Homo sapiens: one gene and its partners. The protein of the gene in region 1 interacts with the protein of each later gene in a biochemical or structural test. Each region holds a gene or a part of one and is shown in the gene's direction. Other genes may lie near its edges.

Evidence for each region.
Region 2: the proteins of DZIP3 (region 1) and TOLLIP form a complex in vitro, tested with the Homo sapiens proteins (one study listed by BioGRID).
Region 3: the proteins of DZIP3 (region 1) and RUNX1 form a complex in vitro, tested with the Homo sapiens proteins (one study listed by BioGRID).

Annotation. Positions count from the first base shown.
Region 1 is NC_000003.12:108,643,893-108,649,703, forward strand, and holds part of DZIP3 (E3 ubiquitin-protein ligase DZIP3), read left to right. Parts: intron 1-271; coding exon 272-889; intron 890-2,724; coding exon 2,725-2,757; intron 2,758-4,050; coding exon 4,051-4,220; coding exon of another isoform or gene 4,221-4,226; exon of another isoform or gene 4,227-5,025; coding exon 5,026-5,070; intron 5,071-5,811. UniProt on the Homo sapiens protein: E3 Ubiquitin ligase proteins mediate ubiquitination and subsequent proteasomal degradation of target proteins.
Region 2 is NC_000011.10:1,276,252-1,278,632, reverse strand, and holds part of TOLLIP (toll-interacting protein), read left to right. Parts: intron 1-1,379; coding exon 1,380-1,594; 3' UTR 1,595-2,381. UniProt on the Homo sapiens protein: Component of the signaling pathway of IL-1 and Toll-like receptors. Inhibits cell activation by microbial products. Recruits IRAK1 to the IL-1 receptor complex. Inhibits IRAK1 phosphorylation and kinase activity.
Region 3 is NC_000021.9:34,829,303-34,832,802, reverse strand, and holds part of RUNX1 (runt-related transcription factor 1), read left to right. Parts: intron 1-3,500.

The DNA of each region.
Region 1 (5,811 bases):
TACTTGAACAAAACCTTGGATGACTGAAAGACTTCTGTGGTGATTAGTCTTTGTTATTACTTTTGCTTGGGAACATGTTGTTTTTGTTTAGGTTTTTTGACAGGCAGAAAGCAGCATGCTAATTGAGCACTGGCTGTGGCAAAGCACTGTACTATCCTTCATTCTTTTGGAATAGTTTTTATCCTACAGGAGCTTAGGATACAATGTGAGAGACCAAATAGAAAATGAGCATTAATGTGGAATGTCTTGACTTCTCAAAATTTATTTTCAGATGAAATGCCTATCTTCAAGCTTGATTATAATTATTTCTATCATCTGCTTCATATAATTATTATTTCTGGTACTGACATTGTTCGACAAATATTTGATGAGGCTATGCCACCTCCTCTTTTGAAAAAAGAGCTTCTTATACACAAGAATGTGCTGGAATCCTACTACAACCATCTTTGGACCAATCATCCTTTGGGTGGATCATGGCATCTGCTTTATCCTCCTAACAAGGAGTTACCGCAATCCAAACAGTTTGACTTATGCCTCCTGTTAGCTCTTATAAAACATTTAAATGTGTTCCCTGCACCCAAAAAAGGATGGAATATGGAACCGCCATCTTCTGACATCTCTAAATCTGCAGACATCCTGAGACTGTGCAAATACAGGGATATCCTCCTTAGTGAGATTTTGATGAATGGTCTCACTGAGTCACAGTTCAATTCAATTTGGAAAAAAGTTTCAGATATTCTTCTGCGCCTTGGGATGATGCAAGAGGATATTGACAAAGTGAAGGAGAATCCCATTGAGAATATCTCCCTTGATTACCATCAGCTATCTGTCTACCTAGGCATACCAGTACCAGAAATCATACAGAGGATGTTATCCTGCTATCAACAAGGTACTAAATGATTATTTACTTCAGCCAATAAACTTCCATTGATTGAATGTCTGCTCTGTGCCAGGCACAGTGCAAAGGGCAAGAGATTCAGTGAGCTCATGGTTTTGGGAAAATGGACTCATCAGGAAGGTAATAGAAATTATAGTGCTAGAGATGTTTCCAGAATACCATGGGAAATCCTAGGCTAAAGAAGTCCAAAAAAGCTTTCTGGAGAGTATCATAGTTAAAGAACTATTAATGGTGTGCAGAAGTTAGCCAGGTGAAGCAGACTGAGAAGAATGTTTCAGAGGGAAACAAAAATAAAGGTATAGAAACATAAAAATATACTGCAGGCAACTAAAAAATGTTGGCTTCATTGAGATTAAAGTAGGGGAGAGTTCATAGAGTACATTCAAGAGGATTTTTTTGTCACATTAAGGAGTCTGCATTTTTCAGAAAGAAATTGTTGAAGACTTTTGAGTACAGTTTTATCACTTTAAGTGGAGTTTTATTCTCCAAAATTAATAAAGTTTAAAACCATGACATGTAAGTACTGTGTGGTTTCAAAGATGTTCGTTTAGACACAGTGTGGATGTATGTTTCTTCTACTTTCTAGCAGAATCTTGTTTAGTTTACAATTTTAGCAGCTATTCATTGGCTGTAGATAATTTTAAAAATCAGGTAACATTCATGCAAGTGTTTGTATTGGCCACTCCCAAACTTGTCTATTGATACGGAAAAGACTTCAGACCTCCTTTCCCACATCTCAGGATACCTTCTCAGCTATTCTTTTGGAAAGCAGAGTTCAAGGCATGACAACATCTCTGAAACCCTGCTGTGCTATTCAGGATGACTTCCTGGTCTCAAGTTATTTACAGCCTAATGAACAACTGATAACCACACTGATGCTATATAAACATACAACTGTAAAAGTTTCTAGTGAACTGGTCCAGATTTTCTTCAGAGATAATTGATGTGCCCAATTTCAGTCCTGGTATTTACTAAGGCTCTGGAATACCTTTGTTTTCTTGCATAATCTAAGAATGAAAGAGGAGGACACTGAGTTTGATATATAAGAAAGTCAGGCAAGAATTTTTGACTTATAAATTAGGGTTTTAAAAAATACATTTACTCTATTAGGATTTTAAATAATTCATGAGAATAGAGTATTTGAGAAAGAGTTTTGAGCACCCATTCAATTCAAAGCATTTTAAGCAGTTCTTACTCAAGTACACTGAAGAGCTTATTGGTCAAGTCCCTTTACTAGAGGCTTTCTTACCATCTTATATTTCTTTCCTCAGCTATTCTAGTTGCTTTTTATTTGGATATCTGATAATTTGATTAACATCCATCATCCCACTAAATCTCCATGAAGATTGTCTTTTTTTTTCTTCACCATTCAATCTCTAGAGCTTAACACAGCCTGATGTACATTGTAGGTGCTCAATAAATATTAATGGGCAAGGAGAGCAAGTGATGATCAGATAAATCAGATTGCTAAAAATAGGTCCCAACTTTCAGTGGAGGTTTGCTGTGTAATTAACTATTATTTCATGGCCTTAGATGGTAAACATAAATATTCGTTGCTTGGTTTAAAGTGCTTGTGTTCTAGGCTTTATCTGTGATACCACATTTTTGTTTACTTTTTTTTCTCTAATCATGGGTTTATAACCTTTATGTGATAATCTAAAGATTGTGCCTTGTCTAAACTGGATTGATGAGCAAAGCTGGTTATTTTTCCAGTTACTTACAGAATAAATTGGTGCAATATAAAAATATTCTGCCTTAATCCTAGCCAGACATTCATTTGTTGCGTTTGCAATTGTACATCTAAAATTTTTCTTTATGTATTATAGGAATTGCTCTACAGTCAATAACAGGCAGTCAGCGTAAGTATATTTAGAAATAAAATGTGTAAATGACTTTTTAACAAGGGATACCTATGAAATTTTTATTTGTTCAGATAAACTAAATGATAAACTATAATTGTGAAGAACTTGGGCCAGGCGCAGTGGCTCACGCCTATAATCCCTGTACTTTGGGAGGCTGAGGCAGGTGGATCACAAGGTCAGGAGATCGAGACCATCTTGGCCAACATGGTGAAACCCCGTCTCTACTAAAAATACAAAAATTAGCCAGGTGTGGTGGCGGGTGCCTGTAGTCCCAGCTACTCAAGAGGCTGAGGCAGGAAAATTGCTTGAACATGGAAGGCAGAGGTTGCAGTGAGCCAAGATCACGCCACTGCATTCCAGCCTGGGCGACAGAGCGAGATTCAGTCTCAAAAAAAAAGAACTTGGAAAATGATGTGATCAAATCACCACTGGTCTGGCTGAATCGAGAATGAGCTTTATTCTGCCTTTGGCTTAGTGCATGTGCTTCAGGGTTTTCCCAAGGATGATGTTCTAACGTTTTACTCACAAAAACTTCAGCAGGCAAAAATACCTTCCTGCTTTCTCTGTTTGGTGTTTAGCGTGTATAACTTTATTTAGTCTGTCTATTGTTTATAGCTATATACTTTTTTTGCCAGGTGATAAGTTGTAATTGTTTAATTTCCATTTTTGTGCTATTTTTTTTAAGTGTAATTAATATTATTCAATTAAAATTATACTTAAAAAAAACACCACCACAGATTTGTTTGGGATAAAATGCTGGACTCTCTGGAGACCAGTCAGACAAAGTCCACAAGTTTTGAGACTGAGTCTCTGGGGCAATATCAAGGAGCAAAGTCTCAAAGAAAAGGTCACATAATAGGGGGCTCACACCCCTCTTATGAAAAAGAAAACAGAAAAAATAGATCTTTTGTCTTCTTTTTCTTTATATTTCAGATATATGTGCTAAAATAATACTAGTTGCATTATTAATAGGATCAAGGTCAGGACATGCAAAAAGTTAGTATTTAGAGTCTACTTATGTTCTAGAGTATCTAATATCTAGAGTCTACCTAAGATTCCAGTAGGTAACATAGCACTCAGGTTCACACTGATTAGTTCCAGGCTGGTGTTTGTACATATTATTTGGTAACTGATAAATGAACATCACATTTTCATCGAGTAATTGAAAAGAGTAAGATATATTTTATTTCTGTTTTGTGAATGTTGCTTTTTTGGGCAAACATTATAACATTGATAAGAAGCTGAAATTGCTTTCATCTAGATTTTGAGAATTTTGTCTTTTATGTTTAGGTATTGAAATAGAAGAGTTACAGAATGAGGAAGAAGAACTAAGTCCACCTCTCATGGAGTACAATATAAATGTGAAATCACACCCTGAGATACAGTTTGCAGAAATTAATAAAGATGGGACCTCAATACCCAGTGAATCTTCAACAGAATCTCTTAAAGATCTCCAGGAAGTATAAGCTCTCATTAATATTTGAGTTAGAAGAACTTATTCTGGGCCTTTAATTTGTTGCATGTGCTGTACTTAAAGCATCCCAGATAATTTTAGCTTATATTTTCATAGTGTTTATACAGAGCTTGAATTGGAATGGTCCTTTCCTTCCTTGCCTCAGTACTTCCTTCCATAATCTTTCCTGCCATAACCATTTATTTTGCCACCATTTCTTAAACACTTATGTGGCAGGCATTATGCTAGACTGTAATATGTTTTTTTAATCCCAGTTGAAGTGGATGTGGGAAGGTATTAGAAAGTAGAAGAAAGTATAGTCTAAAATAGAGAGGAAAGAAAGGAAGAGAAAAGTGGGATATTTCAAAACCATTTGCGCAGAGGTAGAATGAAATTCGTCCAGAATGGAATCTCCGTATTTCTTTACAAATAAGTGGTAACAGTTATTATATAGTCACTAAATTATCCTTAGATCTTTCATCTTATAGGCATGAATATGTTGCTTTTTAAAAAGTGTCTTCCTCCTTTGTTACATCCATGTGTGTAAGTGAGCATCTGTGAACTTTTATCAGTAACCTACTTATTGACATTATGTGTTGTTCCTTTATTCATCAGTGATTATTTAAGGACAGAAGACTAGGATTAAAATAAAAATGATAAAAACAAAAATAATTGTTTCCATAGAATCTAGAAAGAAATACCTATAATATTAGAAAACAAAAGATCTCAGTGGTGAGAGGAAATATATTTTGCAAAATAACCCATTGGGCAATTTGAATTACATATTTAATAAATAATTTTTTACCTACTAGGTTAAGAGTAAACAAAGGAAAAAGAAGAAGACTAAGAATAAAAAGGTAAGAGACTATAATAGCATTATAATACTGATTATGAACACTTGAGTTAAATACATGAATTCATTGTTAGAACTTAAATTAGTTCAAGTAGACATATAGCACAAATGATTCAATAGCTTACTGAGTATATGATTATAGAGAAGTCTACATATGTTATATCCTGAATGATTTTGAAGTACGAAATACAATTTCATACTTCACGTCCTTAAATTGTAATTTATATATTTGCATATATAAATATAGACTGAATTAGTCACATGGAAATTTCATTAATTTCTACATACCACTTATTTTTAAAATGCGTACTCATTGTTTTAAGAACAGCTTTTTGTCATGTCTTTATTGATATGTTTAGAAGCAGCTTTCAAAACTTTAAGAAATCTTGATTTTTTTCTTTATGTCTGAGACTATGCCAAAGATGCAATAATGTGCACAAAAAGGTACAAATACAAACTTCTTGCGTTGCTGCTTCTTTGATTTTGTCAGTTGCAAAATGAACAAGTCAGTATCTAGCACAGTTTTACCAGTGAGTCTCTTAATTGCTAGGAAAACTATAAGGGAAAGCCACATGTCTTTTTTTAATCAAGCATATAGCTAACCACCATGTTATGCAACTTTGTGGTGAAAAAAATTGTTTTCTAGCCTGAAAAATATATTTAAAATCTTGATATATTCTGTATATTATAAATTGAGTGAGAATATTTGCCCAACCACAATCTGGTGAGCCCATGTTGTTAGTCA
Region 2 (2,381 bases), on another chromosome or scaffold:
AGCCGAGAAGCAGAGGAGGCAGGGGTGGGTGTGGAGGAAGAGTCGGCCTGGCCTAGAAGGAGCCGGGAAGCGGTGGCCTTCCTTGCTGAGGAGTCCTGGCCTTTGCAGCAGGTGCAGGAGGCTTGGTGGCAAGCCCTGTCTGCTCCGTTTACACCCCTGCAGGTCTTGTTGCTGGTGTTGGTTCAGGCCAGGATTGAAGTGGCTTCTGCTGCCTTTAGGATCCTCCAAGTGTAGAAAGGAACAAAAGTCCTATCCTAAGATTGGGGCTCTAGCGCTCCAGTGATCCTAGCTGGGAGATGGTTCGTGCTTTTAAAGGTGAATGAACGGGTGAGCAGTGAACCCTTGCACTGCTGCAGCTGCTGCTGCAGGAGGAGCTCTGTGCCTCGCTGGTCGCCGAGCCCCGCGCACGCTGCCTGTGCTCTGTGCCTCACTGGTCGCTGAGCCCCGCGCACGCTGCCTGTGCTCAGGGCTGCTCGTGGTTTTAGGGAGCGGCCACCAGGCTGGGAGGCGAGTCTTAAGTCCGGCCACACGGTGCCTTCAGGGGTGTGTGTGCTGCAGTGGCTGAACCGCCGTGCGTCTCCTGCTCGATAGATTGCATCTCAGTGTGTCCTCCCGCATCAGACATGGGGCGAGGGGCCTGCGTAGCTGTGGGGTGGAGATGCCAGGAACCCTGGACGGTGGCCCCAGTGCACTGAGGGTCCACTGTACACCGCACCTGCTGCCCCACTTGTTTGAGTTTTGTGAGCATTTTCTTGGTGTAGTTTGTATGTGTGTGTGGGGTTGTCATTCTGGGCATCGGCTGCAGCTTTGCTGAGGTCTTCAGTGCCTGTGGTGATTGTTCCCCACCGGCACACAGTTTAGTGACACACTTGCCAAGCTGCAAAAGCATCTTCTAGAATGCCTGATAAAGGAAGAGGCTCAGACCGTGCAGTGTTTGGATCAGCGGGCGTGACATTCCGTGTAGTCCGTCCCCAGATGCAGAGGACTCTGTGAGCCCACTGGTCAGTGAAGACGAGCGTGTGCAGTGCAAATTCACGAGTTCTGAAGGGATCAAAACACCACCCCCAGCCTGCTAGTTATAAAACAGACTCGGGTGAGATTTGAAAGATCAAACTTTGATTTTTATATGGAAGGAAGATGAGTTAGTGAAGGAGGCGTCACAGAGGGCCCTGCCCACCTTCCCCGTGGCTGTGCCTGGGGTTGCTGTTTGGGGGTTTGCCTTTCCAGGGTGTCTTGCGGGACTGGTGTTTGCTGAGACCCGAGGTGGCCCCTTCCTCAGGGAGGCCGGTGGGATGCGTTGTTTTCTTCCTTCAGCAGGAGCTAGTGTGGCACTTCTGGAACTTTCCGACGTTTTTACCAAACTTGATCTTTGCTTCCAGGGATGCCCGCTGTCTGTAGCCCCGGCATGGTGCCCGTGGCCCTGCCCCCGGCCGCCGTGAACGCCCAGCCCCGCTGTAGCGAGGAGGACCTGAAAGCCATCCAGGACATGTTCCCCAACATGGACCAGGAGGTGATCCGCTCCGTGCTGGAAGCCCAGCGAGGGAACAAGGATGCCGCCATCAACTCCCTGCTGCAGATGGGGGAGGAGCCATAGAGCCTCTGCCTCGATGCCGTTTTGCCCCCGCTCTTTGGACACGCCGACCCGGCGCTCCCCAAGGAATGCTGTCCCAACAAGATTCCCGTGAAAGAGCACCCGTGTCGCCCCCTCCCGTGGACTTCTGTGCCGCCCCGTCCACACCTGTTCTTGGGTGCATGTGGGTTTTCGGTTCCTGGCGGTCCAGGACGGGGCGGGGGCTCCCCTCCCATCTCGTGCTGGGAGGTCTCAGCGCGCTCTCCTGTCCCTGGGACGTGCGTCTCTCCTTCTCATGCCGTTCTGGAAAATGCTCTTGCTGTAGAGAGCAGCTGCTTCTGCCAGGGTGTTGGAGGTGGTGGAGCGCCTTCCGATTCCATTCATGGCATTTTGTGATGTGATGTAATTGGAATAGAGCTGTTGATTTAAGGCACACACAATCCCTCACACTGTGGGTTTTTTTTAGAACTTCCCAGACGAAAACTCACGCCCTTGCCCTAACGCGCTTTGCTGTGAGCCTGGCCCCTGCCCAGGGCTTGGGTCTGGTGAGCTGAGCAGCTTCCTGTGGATGGTGTGGGGCCGGCCTCTGGCCTGGCTCACCTGGCCACTGTCCAGCCAGCCTTGTGACAGACTCCGGCCTGAAGGCAGAATGAACCCACACCTGGAGTGAGGAAGGGGGCCTGGCACGGTTGGCCAGGCTCTGCCTGATTGCCAGCCAGCGGGCATCTGAAGCCGGGTCCTTCGCCCGCCGGAGGCTGCCGTCCGTCTCTCCTGCTGCGCTCGTGCCAGCTCCGTGGGTGTCCTCCCAGGG
Region 3 (3,500 bases), on another chromosome or scaffold:
TAATAATCATTAATAATGATTTAAAATGTGTACATTGATTTTTTTTAAATTCCAAAATACAAGCGTATATGGTAAATTAAGTCAAATGGTATGTTCAGTGAGCGAGATGGGCTTGGGGCAAAACAATACTTTGCTTCCAAAGAGGATACAACTCTCAAGGAGATTCTTTCATCTTGCCTTTAAGGTCATTTAAACTAATTCACATAATCTTCAGAAAACTAATTCACATCATCTATTCATGTGTAAAATCAAAAGGAAGACTGTTTTCTTAGTCTCTCGTTGCCTAACTGGCCATTTATACTACTAGGTTGATTAAGGGATTTGCCTTTTTCTGCTGATATGGGAACAAAAAGTCTTAAGCATTTTTAAAGGCAATGGAAAATTCAGCCACATGGGGGAAAATTGATATTGTCACCATTGAGTTGCTCTGTTTCTTGGTGAAGAGTGAATCTAATCTGATTTCCTTCTTCATCAGATATGCCTCTTTAACAACAAAAACAAAAAAATGGGGGGAAGTTGCACATTGAGTTCTCATCCTCTGAAGCTCCTGGGCAAAAGCATTATTGTGGACCGTGTGATGGGCATTCGTCAGCTCTTTGGAGACCTATATGCTTAGTAGAGTATCAGGTTTAACACTAAGCATCGCCCCTTTTTTGTTCCTCTTGAAAACTTTTACTTCTGCAACATTTAAGAAATCATAACTCGCTTTTAGAGTTCCTACGGGCTTGGTTGCTACTCTAAAGAATGTGTGAACTATATTGCTGGTGTTCTTTCTTTCCAAAATATGAATTTGATATTCAGTACTTCACTTGTAAAATTTTAGGAACAACTTTTAAAAAATAAGTATCCAGAATATTTTCATGTGAAACAACTTTTCCTTTTCCTTTTGTTCTTTCTTTCCTATAAGAAAACGCTGTTTTACGCTAATCATGTTTTGAGTAGACCCTTGGGCTTTTTCTCTTGAAATTGGAAAGTTAACAGGTATAATATGCAAGTCTTGTTCAGCCAAGACCTTCAGTTTGTTCTTGACAGTAGGAAAATGCTTATTTTCCAGGCTCAGCCCTGAAATTTCTATGTTATATTTACGAAGATACTTTAAGAAATACAGCATGTGTTTCTGGCTTTCTTTGAAATGGCAGTGGTAGTTTTCAGAAAAATATCCAATTTGTCAGAGTAGTTCCACAGTGGTGCTGTCCAGATGCATGAATGTTTTTCAGCTTTACAGAAATGTCAGTAACCGGGGGTTTGGCGAGCTTGCCGGGATTTATAGAAAGGCTCAGGAACCCTACCTTGCTAGGACTTTGTCAGAAGGGTTATGCCAGCTCCTCTGACTCTGTCAGCAAGAAAATACTGATATAGAATAGCACCAATACTTACCTAGAATCACATGTGCTGGAGGGTCACTCAAAATAGACATCTCAAATTATCTGAAGCACGGTACAGATTGAGAGGGGGCAAGTTGTCATGCCACTAAACCACTGTTTATTTGTTGGGGTCTTAACTATTAAAGGGCTGAGGTTTATTTCAACTTCCTATTTTACCAGGTCTTAAACTGGTAAAGCCATTTTGTCATGAAATAGAATAGAAAGCCATTTTGTCATGAGTAGACCCTTGGGCTACACGTTTCTCCCAGTCAGGACACCATCATTAACTTCTACGATCGAGTCTTAGAATTCTTTTTTAATTTATTTCAAAAGATAGAACAGGGCAGATTCTAGAGCTAGTGGTACCGATGCCTGTTCAGTCACAACTCCCACCTAGAGATGGGTTTGGGCAACCCGAGTGAGTGATTTTAAAATTTCACCCCTGATTGACCAAATATGATGTATCACATTTAAGGTGTCGTAATTTCCTCCTTTCTGGGAATATGAGGATGGAGTAATAGATGCTGGTACAGAAAACTGAAACCTAGATAAACTAGGAAGCCCATTTTGTTGTTCTTCTGCATGCTGGTTGTCATAAGCATGTAGGAAGAAGATTTAACTCTTTAACTGGACCAGTTGTGAGCTATTTTGACGTGGGTCAGACATTTGTACATATTATTCCATTCCCTCAACAATCCTGTGGTATCATTTATAGACAGAGAAATCGAAATTCAGAGGTTAAAAATTGCCCAGTATCTCAAAGATTGTAAGTGATGAACTTGGACGCAAACCCAGACCTTCCTTGCTACAAAGCCAGTGCAAGTGGGATGGCCGTTCCCTGGGCGTGCACTCTTGGGTCAAGGATCGATTTACTACAGGGCTGACCAGTGTCGAGAAGAATCCCAATCACCAAAGGAGGGATGGAAAAAGTGTTGGGCTATCCACTCACTTGGCATTCTTGTATTGAACATGTTCTATTATAATTAGATGTTGATAATAAGAAGAATTTTGGGGCCAGGCTGTGTGGTGGGCACCTTAATAAACTGTCTCCTTTGGTACATGTGCATTTGTTTATAAAGTTTGGGAGAAAAGAAAACTCAGAATAATGAATCTCTAAATAAGAGTGAAAGAGGGGGTATATGAGCAGGGAGAAGGCTTACCAGCCACTCTGTTTACTTTATTGGGGCCATTGCCTTCCTACTTTTGAAGTTCATTGGGACCAAGTGCTTATCATCCAAACCCAGTCAACATCTAATCCACTTTTATGAGTATGCGTGCCTCACTTTGAGTGTTCCATATGGCCAAGAGGGGTCCCTGACCTCTCAAATCATCTCTTGATTTTTAGTATTCCAAGTAACTTCTGTCTTGCTAATTATTTTCCCCCAAAATTAAAGTTACTTAGGAAGGACTATATTCTGGTGCTGCTGTCTGCAAAACTCTGAGATACTGAAATGACCCTGTTTCTCAGTTGTATAGAGTTATTTAAGTCCGTCTGATTCTCTCTTTATCATCTGGATAGACAAAAGGAAGAAAACCTTTCCACCTTCCTGTAGGAGAAGGAGATAAATCCTCTTTCCAGCCTTGGAGGTAAAATATCCAACTGCATTGCATTGCTTTCCTTTCTCTCTCCCTCTCCTTCCCTCTCTTCCTTACTCTTCTAGCAATTTGAAGTTTGAAAACAAAGGGAGTAGGGACTATTTGATTACCTTGAAAGTGGAGGCTACAATCAAACACCAGAAATCCTCATATGTGAATCTATAAATGGTCATTTAATGGTTACACAAAGTAACATATTCAGAATGTGAGAAATTAATTTATATAATAGGCTATAAACATGACAGGTGAATGATTTCATTTAAAAATAGCTTTTAACAAGGTGTAGTAGGGTATGAGAGCCTTTCCAGGTCTATAGCATTATAATCTTACCCCGACAACAAGCCTGAATCAGGTGTTCACAGGAATAAATAAAAATAATTAAAGGAAAGAAGGGAGAGAGAGAGAAGAAATGAAAACCAGTGGGATGACTGCAGAGATTCACTGCAGGGCTTGATCTTAGTGATGAAATATTTCTTCTGTAGACTGCATATGTTCTGAACTTTCCCCTTATGCTTGTAAATATGTAGGCCAGCACACCCA